2 linked regions of the Homo sapiens genome follow. The protein of the gene in region 2 purifies or fractionates together with the protein of the main gene of each other region. This does not show direct contact. Each region holds a gene or a part of one and is shown on either strand. Other genes may lie near its edges.

Region 1 (7,432 bases), on a different chromosome or scaffold from region 2:
AGCTTCCAAGTGGAAAAACTTTATATAATATTATTAGGAGCTGCCTTCTAGCAGTTCAGGCAAGATACGCATGTTCTCCAATGGCACCCACCAGACTGAGAAATGTGATACAAATTAAAAATTCCCCAAAGCAAACCTTTGTCTGAATTGCCCTGACCGTAAGAATCCCATTCTGTTGAGACTTAAGACATTTTCCATTATTTCTCAATTTATAGCATATACTTATTCCTACCTAAAGAAATCACTTTTCTTTTCTTCAAAAAAAGTTAGATCCTGATACAATTAGTATGACATGGAAATTCTTGGGTCATTCATTTATCTTAAGCAGTATTGTTTATGTTAAACTTCTGGCAAAAGAAAGGATAAGGGGTAGCTTTCTTTTGGGTGTGTGGAGCTGGGGCAGGCAGCAGATTTTGACCTGTAAGTATGAACATTTCCAGAATTCTACTCCTATACTTTGAGGCCCTATGGAGGAAAATACACGTTCCCCTCATACATCTGGACAGACTGATTTGTCCTAAGTCATATACAAATTGCTGACAGAGGAACTGATGCTGAATCTATCAGATGACCTAACCACTAATAGTAAATGATTCAGATTTAATAGAAATCATGAAGTAGGGTACAAGGATATTTCTAATTGCATAAGTATCATGGATATTATTTCTTTTGTATTATTTTAATTGACTTCAAATAATTCTTTGGGGAGAGAGAGGAAATAAACTACGGGTATTGACATAAGGTCAGGGAAATCAAACAGAGAAGTGGTTTGCAAGTTGTAATAACACCCCATTGCAAGTTGCAGCCCTGGTGAGGGACCCAAGGCAACAGTGAGTAACACTAATAAATGTCAATCAGAAAAATTTAACAACAAAAGAGGCAGCAAACTGTCACATATGGCAGAATAATCCAGGCTGAATGCTTTGTGAACTTGCATCTGACCATCCATTAATGTTCTAAGGTTGGGGGTATGCGTAGTAGATACAATTAGGAGACTTAAAGCTAAAGAGAAGCATCTCTCAGTTCTTCTCATCCCTTCTAAATCCAGAGGGATTTGATCTTTCATTCACTGGGGGCCAGGGCTGGCAACTACCCATATAAAGTAAGCACCTACTATGTGCCTGGCATCCATGGTCTTAGGCGATGGCTTCCAGGAATTGCCAGGATCCCTGATGGAGGCTCCTTCTGTGCTGCCTGACCTGCTTTGCTCCTGCCACTGCAGACACCCACGCTGCTGCAGACTCCGAGCCACAGCAAGGCTCAGAAGATCAAGGGACCAGTCACAGCAGCCTTTTTAACTTTGGGAAAACCCAATGCTCACTTCACTCAAACGTTGCAAAGTGGTGCCATGACCCTTTAGCTCTTGGCTCACCAATTCAAAGAGCCACATCACATACAGCCCTTAAGCTGCCCACGGCATGATTCCGTGTCTAGTTCCTTTCCAGGTCCCCCCAAGCGGAAGACAGTTCTGGCAGGGAGTCTGGGCAAGATTACTACAATATTTAGCCTTTGTCCCTTCTTTTGCTACGTCTTATTGTAGAATGAGGCACACAGGTCTGAGAGATTGAGTATGCTGGACTTGAGACCTGTACTCAAAAGGTCCCTGCAGGACCGCAGGTCAGCTTAATCCAGCCCAGGAATCTCCATTTCAAAGATGAAGAAACTGAGGTTCAAAGAAAGCAAATCATGGTCTCTACTCAGAGTACTGGAAGGCCTGATATAAACTTAACCCCAATGCCATGCCTCCTGCCTTAGTAAATTTACTGAGCACCTAACCAGTGAGAAATAGGCAGAAGTGAATAAGGCCAGATTTCACTCCCTTCACTACTGGTGTGAATGGATAAAGGTAACTCCACTTTCTCTCTGGGCTTTAGTTTTCTCATCCATTAAGTGAAAGACAAGACTGAATTGGTGATTTCTAATGTGCCTTTAAGCTCTGAAACTCTCATAAGAGTTGAGGATATAATTATGTGTTGGTGTGTGCAAATGTATATGCATCATATATACAAACACAGACACATATATACATATGGTATCTTACAATTAAATACCATTAGCAACCACACATCTTGCCCAATCCCTTCCTGCGACCATGTTTTCCTAATCCCAAACCGAAACTGGACACTGCAACTCATCGTCGCAGCACCTCAGAATCCAGGGGGTGTGGTCAGTGCCCACTGGCGTCCCTCCAAACACCCATGTAAGCGTACTTTAACATGTAAGCGTACTTTACAAGACATATACTAAGTCATTAAATTCCTTGGAAGAAACGGCCAATCTGAGGCAGGGCTGGACTGTGGGTAACAGAACACACCGCAGGAAGCATAAGTTAAAGGTGACAGCCCGTGGCTGCCCAAATTTGGGGCTCCGCTGCCAATGCACCGGGAGGGCAGTGAGTGCCCAGGCTTGGAACAAGCCTGGCTCGGAGCCCACATTTGAGGGCAGGAACCTGCACGCCCGGGTTTGCGCATCCAGCGTGAGCAACTCTGAAAACGTGCAGTGCAGGGCGTGCAGCGGGGCACCGGTCCTGTTTCCTCTCGCACGTGGCGCCTGGCGTGGGGCTGCAGCGCGGGGCCGCAGCGCGGGGCCTCCTCCCCTCCCCGCCCCCCACCCCGCCCCAAGGGCCGGCGCTAGGACCCCGCGAGCCGCACGCACTTCCTGGCGCCGCCGTCCAAGCCTCCCGCTCGGCGCCCCCGGCTCCCGCCCGCCGCCGCCGCCGCCGCCGCCCTACCTGGTGAAGCAGTACTCGCAGTGGTTGCCCCGCTCGTTGACCGTGAGCACGTAGGCATAGGCCGGGCAGGAGAACAGCAAGTCCCCCACCTGGAAGGGCTGCAGAGCCCGCAGCCCCCGGCCTTTGCCCGGGCTGCAGAAGCGCTCCAGGCCGCCGAGGCCCTCGGCCCTCATGGTGGCGGCGGGGCGCGGCCGCCGGCTGTGCCCGAGCTGCGGCTCCCGGCGAGCTGTTATTGGAGACGCGTCACCTAGAGCTGCGGGGGGCGGGGTGGGAGCCGCCCGGCGGACGCGGCGGCGGCTCCCCGCTCCCCGGAAGGGAGGGCGGCCCCGCCCGGGCCTCGCGCGCCCCCGCGGGGAGGGGGACGGGCCCGGCGGCCCCGCCTAGCGCCGCGACCCTCGGCGGCCGCCCCGCGCGCGCTCCGGGCCGTTTCCGGTGTGGCCGCGACAAAGAGCCGCAGCCCCTGTGGCTTCTGCGAGGAGGCGTGAGGCGTGTGCGCCTCCGCGGCGTCTCCACGGAGCGAGCGGGACGCGCCCTCCTCCTCGGTGGGAGGGAGGGGGGTCACCTGCGGGGACCAGGTATCCGAGGGCCACCCCTAGACAGTCAGCCTGGCCCGAAGGATGACCAGCCCCCGGTAAATAGAAGGGGGCGAAGCCAGCTCCGAAACCTTACGTTCGCTGTCCCTTGTAAAGACCCTAGAGGCAGTGATCGGGGAACGCCAAGGAGAAAGCGGCAGAGGGGAAACCACAGTAGAGAAGTTTGGTGTGCAGAGGGTTGAAGTGTGCTTTTCCAAGGTTAGAGGTTTTTAAACCTTGTGGCTTTAATGGGAACGTAGTTTGCCCTCTGCTCCTCTAGTGGAATTACATGGACGGAAGAGGAAATGCATTGGCCGGCCCAGCTCACCGAGTCTCTGAGGCATGCTGCGAACGTTGCAGAGGAAGCCAGAGAGAACCTTGCCTTCAAGGAATTTAGGCTGTTGGGGGATAATGCGATGCTGTGGCCAGTGTCCAGGACACTGCGCTAGAGTTTGCAGTAGTTTTAATATGCTTGACCACCCACGAACTGTGATCTTAGAAAAGTCACTTGGGTTAGGAGTCAAAGGATTTAAAGCCCACAAAGCCTGAAACGTAAATCCTATACACATGCACGCTATTACTTTTCATATGAGAAAGGAAAATATAATCCGTGTTCCACATGATTATGTAAAGACTGGAATTGATGTACATGCAGTAAAGACTAAAATTGTGACGAGATCATTTAGCAGAAACCACTACTTCAAAATAGGACCTCAAACAGTTACCTGTGTAAGTTCAGGACTGGTTGAGCAAAGGGAAAGGATTAATATGATTGGAGATGTAAAATCAGTGGAATTTTTGGCATTTCAGTAAAATGTCTTTATCAGCTGGGTGTGGTGGCTCAGCCCTGTAATCCCAACACTGTGGGAGGCCAAGGTGGGAGGATCATTTGAGCCCAGGAATTGGAGAGTTGGAGACCAGCTTGGGCAACATAAAGACCCCGTCTCTATGGGAAATTAACCACCTCTCAAGTGGTGCTGAGGTGGGAGGATAGCTTGAGCCTGGGAAGTCAAGGTTGCAGTGAGCTGTGGTGACTCCATTATACTCCAGCCTGGGTGACAGAGCAGGACCTTGTCTCAAAAGAAAACAAAAAAGCCCTTATTAGTGGCAAACTAAATAAGCCTCTAACCCGTCTTCAAGTAAAGGAAGTTATGATAGTATTTTCATTTATGCATTTTAAGAAACTTCGACTGACTATGGCCAGCAACTGGGATAGAAAGATGGACATCAGCCGGCTGTGGTGGCTCACGCCTGTAATCCCAGCACTTTGGGAGGCCGAGGTAGGCGGATCACCTGAGGTCGAGAGTTCAAGACCAGCCTGACCAACATGGAGAAACCTCATCTCTACTAAAAATACAAAATTAGCCAGGTGTGGTGGTGCATGCCTGTAATCCCAGCTACTCGGGAGGCTGAGGCAGGAGAATCGCTTGAACCTGGGAGGTGGAGGTTGCTGTGAGCCAAAATCGCACCATTGCACTCCAGCCTGCGCAAGAAGAGCGAAACTCTGTCTCAAAAAAAAAAAAAAAAAAAAAGTGGACAAAATGTAGTCCTAGGTCCTTGCATTTGGCACATTCAAGTTTGATAATACCATTAGTTATTGAGTATTGTTGACCAGGCATCGTGCTCCATCATTAAACACATTATCTGGTTTATCTTTACAACAGGCTAATGAGTTAGGTATTATGCCCCTCATTGCCAAAATTAGGAAGGAAACTAAGACCCAGAAGGAATGATTTTCAAGGCCACACAATAAATTGCAGAATTTGGTTTCCAAGTCAGTCTGAATTCAAGGTCCATGTTCCTAACCACAGTGTTTTGCTGCAAACAAACACAGTTCACTGGGATAAGTGCAGTTATGGTGGCTTGTACAAAATGTTCTGTGGTAGTACAGGCAGGGAGTGACAGCTTTAGCCTGCTAAACAGTCAAGACAGGCATCACATTCAAGTAACGTTAGAGCTGAGCCTGAAGGATGGACAGGATTTTGCAAGTGGAGGTGGGGAGAAGAGTTTTCTGGGCAGAGAGAACTGCGTACAAAGACAGAAGACCCTGAAAGCACAGAGCTTGTAGTTGGGGGCCCCTGAGCATCTGGAAGAGAGGACAGGAAATGAGGCAGGAACAGCTGAAGAGCATCTTCTCCAGAGGTGAGTTCTGCCCCAGAGGCCATGGGAGAGCCAGTTAAAGCGTTTAAGTGAGGGGTGGCACATTGAGTCCAGTGTTTTAGACTGATCTGCCAGCAGCATTGTGGGTTGGCTGGGGTGCCAACATTCAGCACTTCATAACTGTTTACATGTATATAAACAGCCTTGGCATGTGAGACCACTGACAGTTTGCATTTGTCTGTGTGATGACCTGATTAGTGTTTACATCCTCCACCAGACTGTACAAGCTCCATGAGGGCAGGGAATGAGTCTGTTTTTGTTACCCTTACATCACCAGCTCTTATCACTACTCCTGGAACACAGAGAGAATGGAAAAAATATTTAAAGGTTGAATAAACGTCATGGAATCTCATTCTGATTTCTGGGGGCTCTAACCAGCAAAAAGATGAAAAGACTGACGTAGAAGTAAACAATTACAATACAGTAGACAGTTTACTGTTTCAATGATTAATTGTGCAAAGTAATCTACCTGTTTACTTTTTTTATTGCAAGTAACTTTTTCCACTTTAATTGGGAAAGATTTCCACAGCTGAGAAAAAAGCAATTACATAGCTACCGAATTATCTTTCCAGATGAGTGCTGGCTTATTCTTGAGGGTGGAGGTGACTGTGATTTGAGAACACTGGAAAAGAAACCGCCTCATTTCAGAAAAATCCCTGTGATGAACTTAAATGACTCGAGATGGGGAAATGGTCACTGAAGCAGTAGCCATGAATTTAGGAGCTTAAATTACTAAGAAAACTGTGTTTAAAATAAACAGCCAAAGAATGGCAATAAACCAGCCCGGGGAGACTGATGACAGCGCTCTTCATGAAGCCCATACTTGTCACTCTGCCACTCTGTAATCTCACATTCCGTGAAGTCTTTGAGCAGCCAGGACCCATCCACTTTTCCTACGCCCTCTGCTCCATAACGTAGGAGGTATGGAATTTGAAAGGAGTGTTTTTGGTTACTTTGCCTCACTGAAACTCAGGAGAAGTGGTACAAGGACGAAAACTCCTTTGCTTAATTTCTCTAACCTAGAAGTTGATCTAATTTATGAGTAAAAGATCCTTCCAACCACAGATTAGCACATGAAAGAAATAGCTCTGGCCTAGGGAAATGAAGCCTTAGCAAAGAAGGTATCCCAGTGAACGTGAGCAAAGGGCCTAGATGCTGTATAGTTCTGCATCTATGTCTACATGTCACTTATTGAGGACATACTATGTACTTACACTGTGATAGATCCTAGTCATACCAAGGTGTAAAGACCAACATACATGAAAACAGTTATGAAGTGCTGAATGTTGGCACTCATAGATATTAGGTTCCAATCCCTGGAATCTATAAATGGCTTCAAAGGGTCTTGCAAATGTGTTTTAAGGATCTTGAGAGAGTGAGAGTATCCTGGAACATCCAGGTGGGTTCTCTGTGCAGTTGCAAGTTTTCTGATGAAGGACAGAAGGAAATTTGACACAGACAGGAGAGGAGGCAGCAATGTGACTATGGAGGCAGTGATGAGAGGGATACAGTGATGGGCTAAGGAATGCTGGCAGCCACCAGAGCTGGAAGAGGCAAGGAACACCTTTCCCCTAGAGCCTCGGGAGGGAGTGTGGCTTTGCCAATACCCTCACTTCAGCCTGTTAATCTAATTTCAGACTTCTGGCCTCTAGAACTATGAGAGAATAAATTTCTGTTGTTTTAAGACACCTGTTTTGTGGTAATTTGTCATAGCAGCCACAGGGAGCTAATAAAATAATCCAATAAAATTTTAATAGGGAGCTGAACAAAGTGCAGTAGGAAGGCTTCACAGAGAACCTGACATTTTAGCTTCTAGAAGGAAGAGGAAAGATTGACCAAGGGAAAGCAAAGTTCCCAAAATGGGCTTAAGACTAACAGTGCAGAGCTGGGCATGGTGGCTCATGCCTGTAATCCCAGCAGTTTAGGAGGCTGAGGTAGGTGGATCACTCGAGCCCAAGAGTTTGAGACC
Region 2 (5,180 bases):
GAGGCTTCAGCTTAAAGATGTAGGGGGAATCCTGCCACATGGCGAAGGATGCTTTGGGTAGAGGGAACACCACACGAGGCCTGGCCATGGGACAGAGCAGGCTGTTGGAGTTGGTGGGAGGGGCCCAGAGTGGCTGTGATGGGGGCTGGTGAGCAGGAGCTGGGAAAGGGGCTGTGTGTGCTGAGGGGGCATGTGTTCACATTGCCTCAGATCGAGACAGAGCTGGGCAAGAAGACCCTCAGCAACCTGGAGAAGATCCGGGAGGACTACCGAGCCCTCCGCCAGGAGAACGCTGGCCTCCTAGGCCGGGTCCGGGAGGCCTGAGGAGCCGCCGGCAGAGGTCTCTCCCCAGCCTCAGGCAGGGATTTGGGGTGCTGGAGGCAGTGGCCAAGCACATGCCCTAGCTACTTCCTCCGCTGTCCAGTTCCTCCTGCTGCGGCCTTGGACCCAGACCCCTGCCCACTGACCGCAACCCTTATATGGGGTGATAGTCCAGCATGTGGGGAGCTCGGCTGCAGTTTATTGGGGACGGTACTGTGGGTTGGGGGCCTTGGATCCCAAATAAATGAGTAGTTCCTCTGCAGTCTAAGCTGAGGCATGGATCAGGGCTCAGGGAATGGGAGTGAGGTGAGTGGCAGGGGAGACACGGGGTATTTTTGGCAAGGCAGTGTGTGTGGCTGTGTGTGTCTGCACGGGACTCAAGAGACCCACTGGGGGGCTGTGCGTGTGCATATGCGTGAGATACACAGGTGAATTCTAACAGGCCGTGTGTGTGAGCGAGCACGTGTTGGGACCTCAGATCCTGAGGGTACTGACGCTGCTTCTGTGTAGGCCTCTGGGCACACCCCTGTGTTGACAGTGCCCCTGTGGGCCCTGAGGCTGGCTGTGGGTGCGTGCCTTGGGGTGTGTGGGTTGTCAGGGCTGTGCTTGTGTGTGATTGTGTGATGATGCAGCTTTGAGGTTGTTTGAGTGTACTGAGGCAGGCTCTCTGTGTTTTGGGGTTTGTGTTGAGTGAGGGACAGGATTGTGACATTTTGTGTGTCTGTGTGACTTTTCCAGCCCTGAAGTAATCTGTGCGAGCAGCTGAGGCAGGCTCTGTGTGGCTGGTTGTGAAGGCTCTGTTTGGCTGCAGGGCTCGACTGGGGGGTGTGTCTGGGGCGGAGGTGGGGGCTGGGGCCAGGACCGGGGCCCCTCTGAGCAGCCTTGGGGCAAAGGATATGATGGGGGAGGGGGTGGCTGCCAGCGGGGGAACAGGGGCCCTGGCAGGCAAGACAGTGGAAACCTCACTTCTTGGTCCCTGTGGGCACATCCAGGGCCTATCATCCCTGCCCCCACCACCTCTGCCTCCCACCAGTTTGGCCCCTGTTCGTCCATCCTCCTTTCCTTGATCTTGAGGTCAGGGGCCAGGTGTAGGGTTGGAACACCTGCTGGGCCTCTGGCTCCGTTTCTTGCGGAACTCCAGCTCATCCACGGTCCACACAGCCCCCTTCTCGCTCTCCACCCGCACAAAGCACTTGTGCAGACTCAGGTTGTGGCGGATGGCGTTCTGTGGAAGGCCGGGGACAGGGAGCAGGTGGGCGTCAACCTCTGAGGCCAGCAGCCACCACCAACAACCCACATCCCGTTCCTCCCCAATGTGCCTATGAGCCCAGACCCAGGCCTGCCCACTTTGAGCTGCGATGGCACTTGAGGCCATCCCAGTCACCGCCACCTCAGAGGAGCTCACCTTCCAGGTGGCAGGATGGTTTCTGAAGAAGGCAAACATGCGTGTGAACCAGTGGTAGATCTCATTGAGTGTCCGCTGCTTCTCTGGAGCCTCCAGGATGGCCTGGAAGTTGGGGGGTGGGGTAAGGGGCACATTCCCCAAACTTGGGGTTTAGAGGGGCTATGACCTACCCCGAGCCATCTGACATGGGGGCGGAATTGTAGGGGCAGGTAATCAGGGACAGGACTAGATGTGGGGTGAAGCATGGGGTCAAAGATGGGGTTAGAAAAGGGGTGAAGTGTCGGGTTGGGCAGGGTTAGATGGGTGTGGGTATGGTTGTTCTGGGATTAGGTAAGGGATCAGGACTGAGGTTGGGAGTGGGGTCTTGTTCAGGGCTAGGGCTGAAGTGAGGTGAAAGGTCTGGGATGGAGTTGGAGTTGGGGTTCTCTGTGGAGGTGACATTTCAGGGTTGGGGAAGGTGAAGGGTCAGAAGTGGGGTCAAGGATTTGGAAGGGGTAAAGGGCCAGGCCAACTTAAGGGTCAGGGAAGGGGTGGGTTAAGAGTCAGGCTGGGGTGGACTCAGGTGGGGGGTCTAGGGGTGAGGGATGGGATGACTTGGCTTTAGGTCAGAAGCCAGAGATGGTTTGAATTATCGAGTATCTTACGTGTCAGGGACATGGTTAGGTGGTTAGGCTCAGGGCAAGGATGAGGTTAGTTGTGGGGTTCGGTGTGGAGTGAGGCTGAGGGTCAGGGAATTTGATCAGTTTGGATTCAGGAATGGGATTACAGAGTCAGCGATGATGATTGCAGTGAGGCTATCAGTCAGGATGGGGCTAGGTCAGGGTTTCAGTTCAGAGACAGTCGGGGAATATCTGGTATCATGTAGGGGTGAGGTTCAGGTTTGGGGTTAGGTGTGGCGCTAGGATGAAGGTTCTGAGAAGGCATTGGGGAGGCTGAGATGAAGGAGTTGGGATGGGGTGATGAAGTTAAGGATCAAATGGGTGTTACAAGGAAAGGTTGGGAATGGTGCCCAGTTGGGGGTGTATTGACATACTGGGGTACGTTGGGGCCAGGGAAGGAGATGGGGTTGGGTTGGCATAAAGGCTGGGGAAGGAGTTAGAGTAAGAGCTGGGGTACGTTTAGGGCAAGGTGCAGAGATGGGGTTAGCTTTAGGCTATTTTATGGGTCCAGGAGAGGGTTAGGTATGGGGCTGAGGTGGACATCTGGAAAGGGGTAGGTTTAGGGTCAGAATTTGGCATGCTCTGGCCTGGATGGTGGTTTAGGTTTGGATTTGCGGACAGGTTTGGGGTGAAGCCAGCATGAGGGGTCACATTTGAGGCACGGCTTGGGGATCCTTGGGGCTGGGGCTTGGGAATGGAGGAACCCACTCTGAGGGCACTCAGAGGGAGACAGGAGTTTGGGAGGCAGGTCCCCCACCCCATCTTTGTCTTCCTCCTCCTTGGGGCCGAGCTGCCCTGCTTACCCAGCGGATGAGCGTGGCGTAGGTGAAAGGGGGTCGCATGTTGTGGAACTTGAAGTAGTCCATGTTGTGGAGGAACTCTGTCAGAGGGTGGGGATGAATCAAGCCCCATGCAGGACCTCCTAGCTAGCTCCCTGTCCCCTCCCCCTACAAGGTGAGTCTACAGGCCTGAGATCTCACCGTCAACACCCGTGTCCACGGGCACAGGTACTGTTTGCTGAGCACCTGACATAAGTTGTATCATTTATTCTTTGCACCACTTCTGCCAAAATAGTTCTCCCCGAGGTTGAAAAGAAGCGGAGTAACTTGCACACCAAAGGATGCAAGAGGTTAAATGGCAGAGCCAGGATGACAGTCAAGGTCTCTGATCCCTGCTAAGCCCACAGGCCAGGCCTGGTGGAGAGCAGTGGATAGGTGAGCTCGGGCGAATCCACCCCGATTTTCCTTGGTCAGGGGAGGAAAGGAGGTGCTCCTGGAATTACTTAGCAGGGTCCCTCCCTTCTGATGGCCGAATATAGTAGCTGGAGTCCAGAGTGGGTGAGGCATGGCCCCAATCCCCAAGGGAGTCAGGGCTAGGGGCCCGACACTCGAGACCATATGGGGGGCTTTCAGGCCACGGACATCCCGAAAGGAAGCTTTTGTGAGCGGATGCATTTTCCCAAAGGCTGAGTGGCGGCAGCTGCAGTGGTGGTGGTGGTGGGAAGGGGCAGCATGGAGCTCCTTTGCACCCTCCACCCAGAGCCTGTCAGGATTAGGAGCTTGGGGGCACCGTGTAGTGCAAGGACCATTCTTACCTGGGAATGTGCTGTTTCCATGGCTACCCCACAGGTGCCTCCGGACAGCAAACAGGCTGTCAGGGGCCTCCCGGGGGCCAGACCAGGCTGGGACGACAGGGCCTTGGCTGCCAGCAGCTACGATGCAGCAGGAGCCCTTGTCGGATGATGCCTGGGTGAGGGGGAGAGGCTGGTGACCCAGAGGCTTAAACTTCCCACTTTTTACTTTCTATTTTATGTTTTTTATTTTTTTTGATACTGAGTCTTGCTCTGTCGCCCAGGCTGGAGTGCAGTGGTGCAATCTCGGCTCACTGCAACCCCCACCTCCCAGATTCAAGCAAGTCTTCTGCCTCAGCCTCCCGAGTAGCTGGGACTACAGGTGCCCGTCACTACGCCCAGCTAATTTTTGTATTTTTGGTAGAGATGGGGTTTCACCATGTTAGCCAGGCTGGTCTCGAACTCCTGACCTCATGTGATCCACCCGCTTCAGCCTCCCAAAGTGCTGGGATTACAGGCATGAGCCACTGCGCCTGGCTCCACTTTATTTTTAAATCAGTGTTTTTCAAAGCAAGGACGCCCTCTTCTAAATTCCAGTCTGAGGTGGAATCCCACAAAACAGCATGAGCCGTATTTATTAGAGCACAGGTGCGGATGTCGTATGTGGCCACTGATGCTGGGACCATGAACTGGGGTTGAATAGGGCTCTTTACCACCCAACTGTGACCTTGGGAAAGTCACCTAAACCCCCCTGGCCTCAATATTCCTCATCTGTACATTCGCATCATGAGAAATAAATTACCACCAGCAAAGCGCTCAGAAACAGTGCCTGGCCTCCAGGGCTGGCTTCATGGGCGTGTGACCTATGTGGTTATGTGGCACCCTGTGCTTTGTTTAATGCTCTGTGGTCGCCATCTTGAAATCTGAACAAGGGGCCCTGCAGGTTACATAGCTGGTCCTGCTGGCACACAGCCTGCATCTGGCAAGTCTGGCTATTTGCATTTGCTTTAACAACTCAGGATCACAGTGTTTGGGGATCTTAGAGTCAGAGGGTTTTTTTTTTTTTTTTTTCTTGAGACGGAGTCTTGATCTGTCGCCTAGGCTGGAGTGCAGTGGTATGATCTCAGCTCACTGCAAACTCCGCCTCCCAGGTTCAAGCAATTCTCTGCCTCAGCCTCCCAAGTAGTTGGGACTACAGACACCTGCCACCACGCCTGGCTAATTT

What was found. Proteins that work in one complex are often made in the same cells at the same time.
Region 1: the proteins of FOXP3 (region 2) and SMYD2 purify together in Homo sapiens (affinity purification with mass spectrometry; 2 studies listed by BioGRID and IntAct, with this or other methods). This does not show direct contact.

Annotation. Positions count from the first base shown.
Region 1 is NC_000001.11:214,276,727-214,284,158, reverse strand, and holds the start of SMYD2 (N-lysine methyltransferase SMYD2), read right to left. Parts: upstream 3,001-7,432; 5' UTR 2,905-3,000; coding exon 2,732-2,904; intron 1-2,731. UniProt on the Homo sapiens protein: Protein-lysine N-methyltransferase that methylates both histones and non-histone proteins, including p53/TP53 and RB1. Specifically trimethylates histone H3 'Lys-4' (H3K4me3) in vivo. The activity requires interaction with HSP90alpha.
Region 2 is NC_000023.11:49,249,938-49,255,117, forward strand, and holds the end of FOXP3 (forkhead box protein P3), read right to left. Parts: intron 4,131-5,180; coding exon 3,980-4,130; intron 3,266-3,979; coding exon 3,189-3,265; intron 1,829-3,188; coding exon 1,727-1,828; intron 1,547-1,726; coding exon 1,397-1,546; 3' UTR 501-1,396; downstream 1-500. Other genes in the region: CCDC22 (coiled-coil domain-containing protein 22), read left to right, coding at 211-324. UniProt on the Homo sapiens protein: Transcriptional regulator which is crucial for the development and inhibitory function of regulatory T-cells (Treg).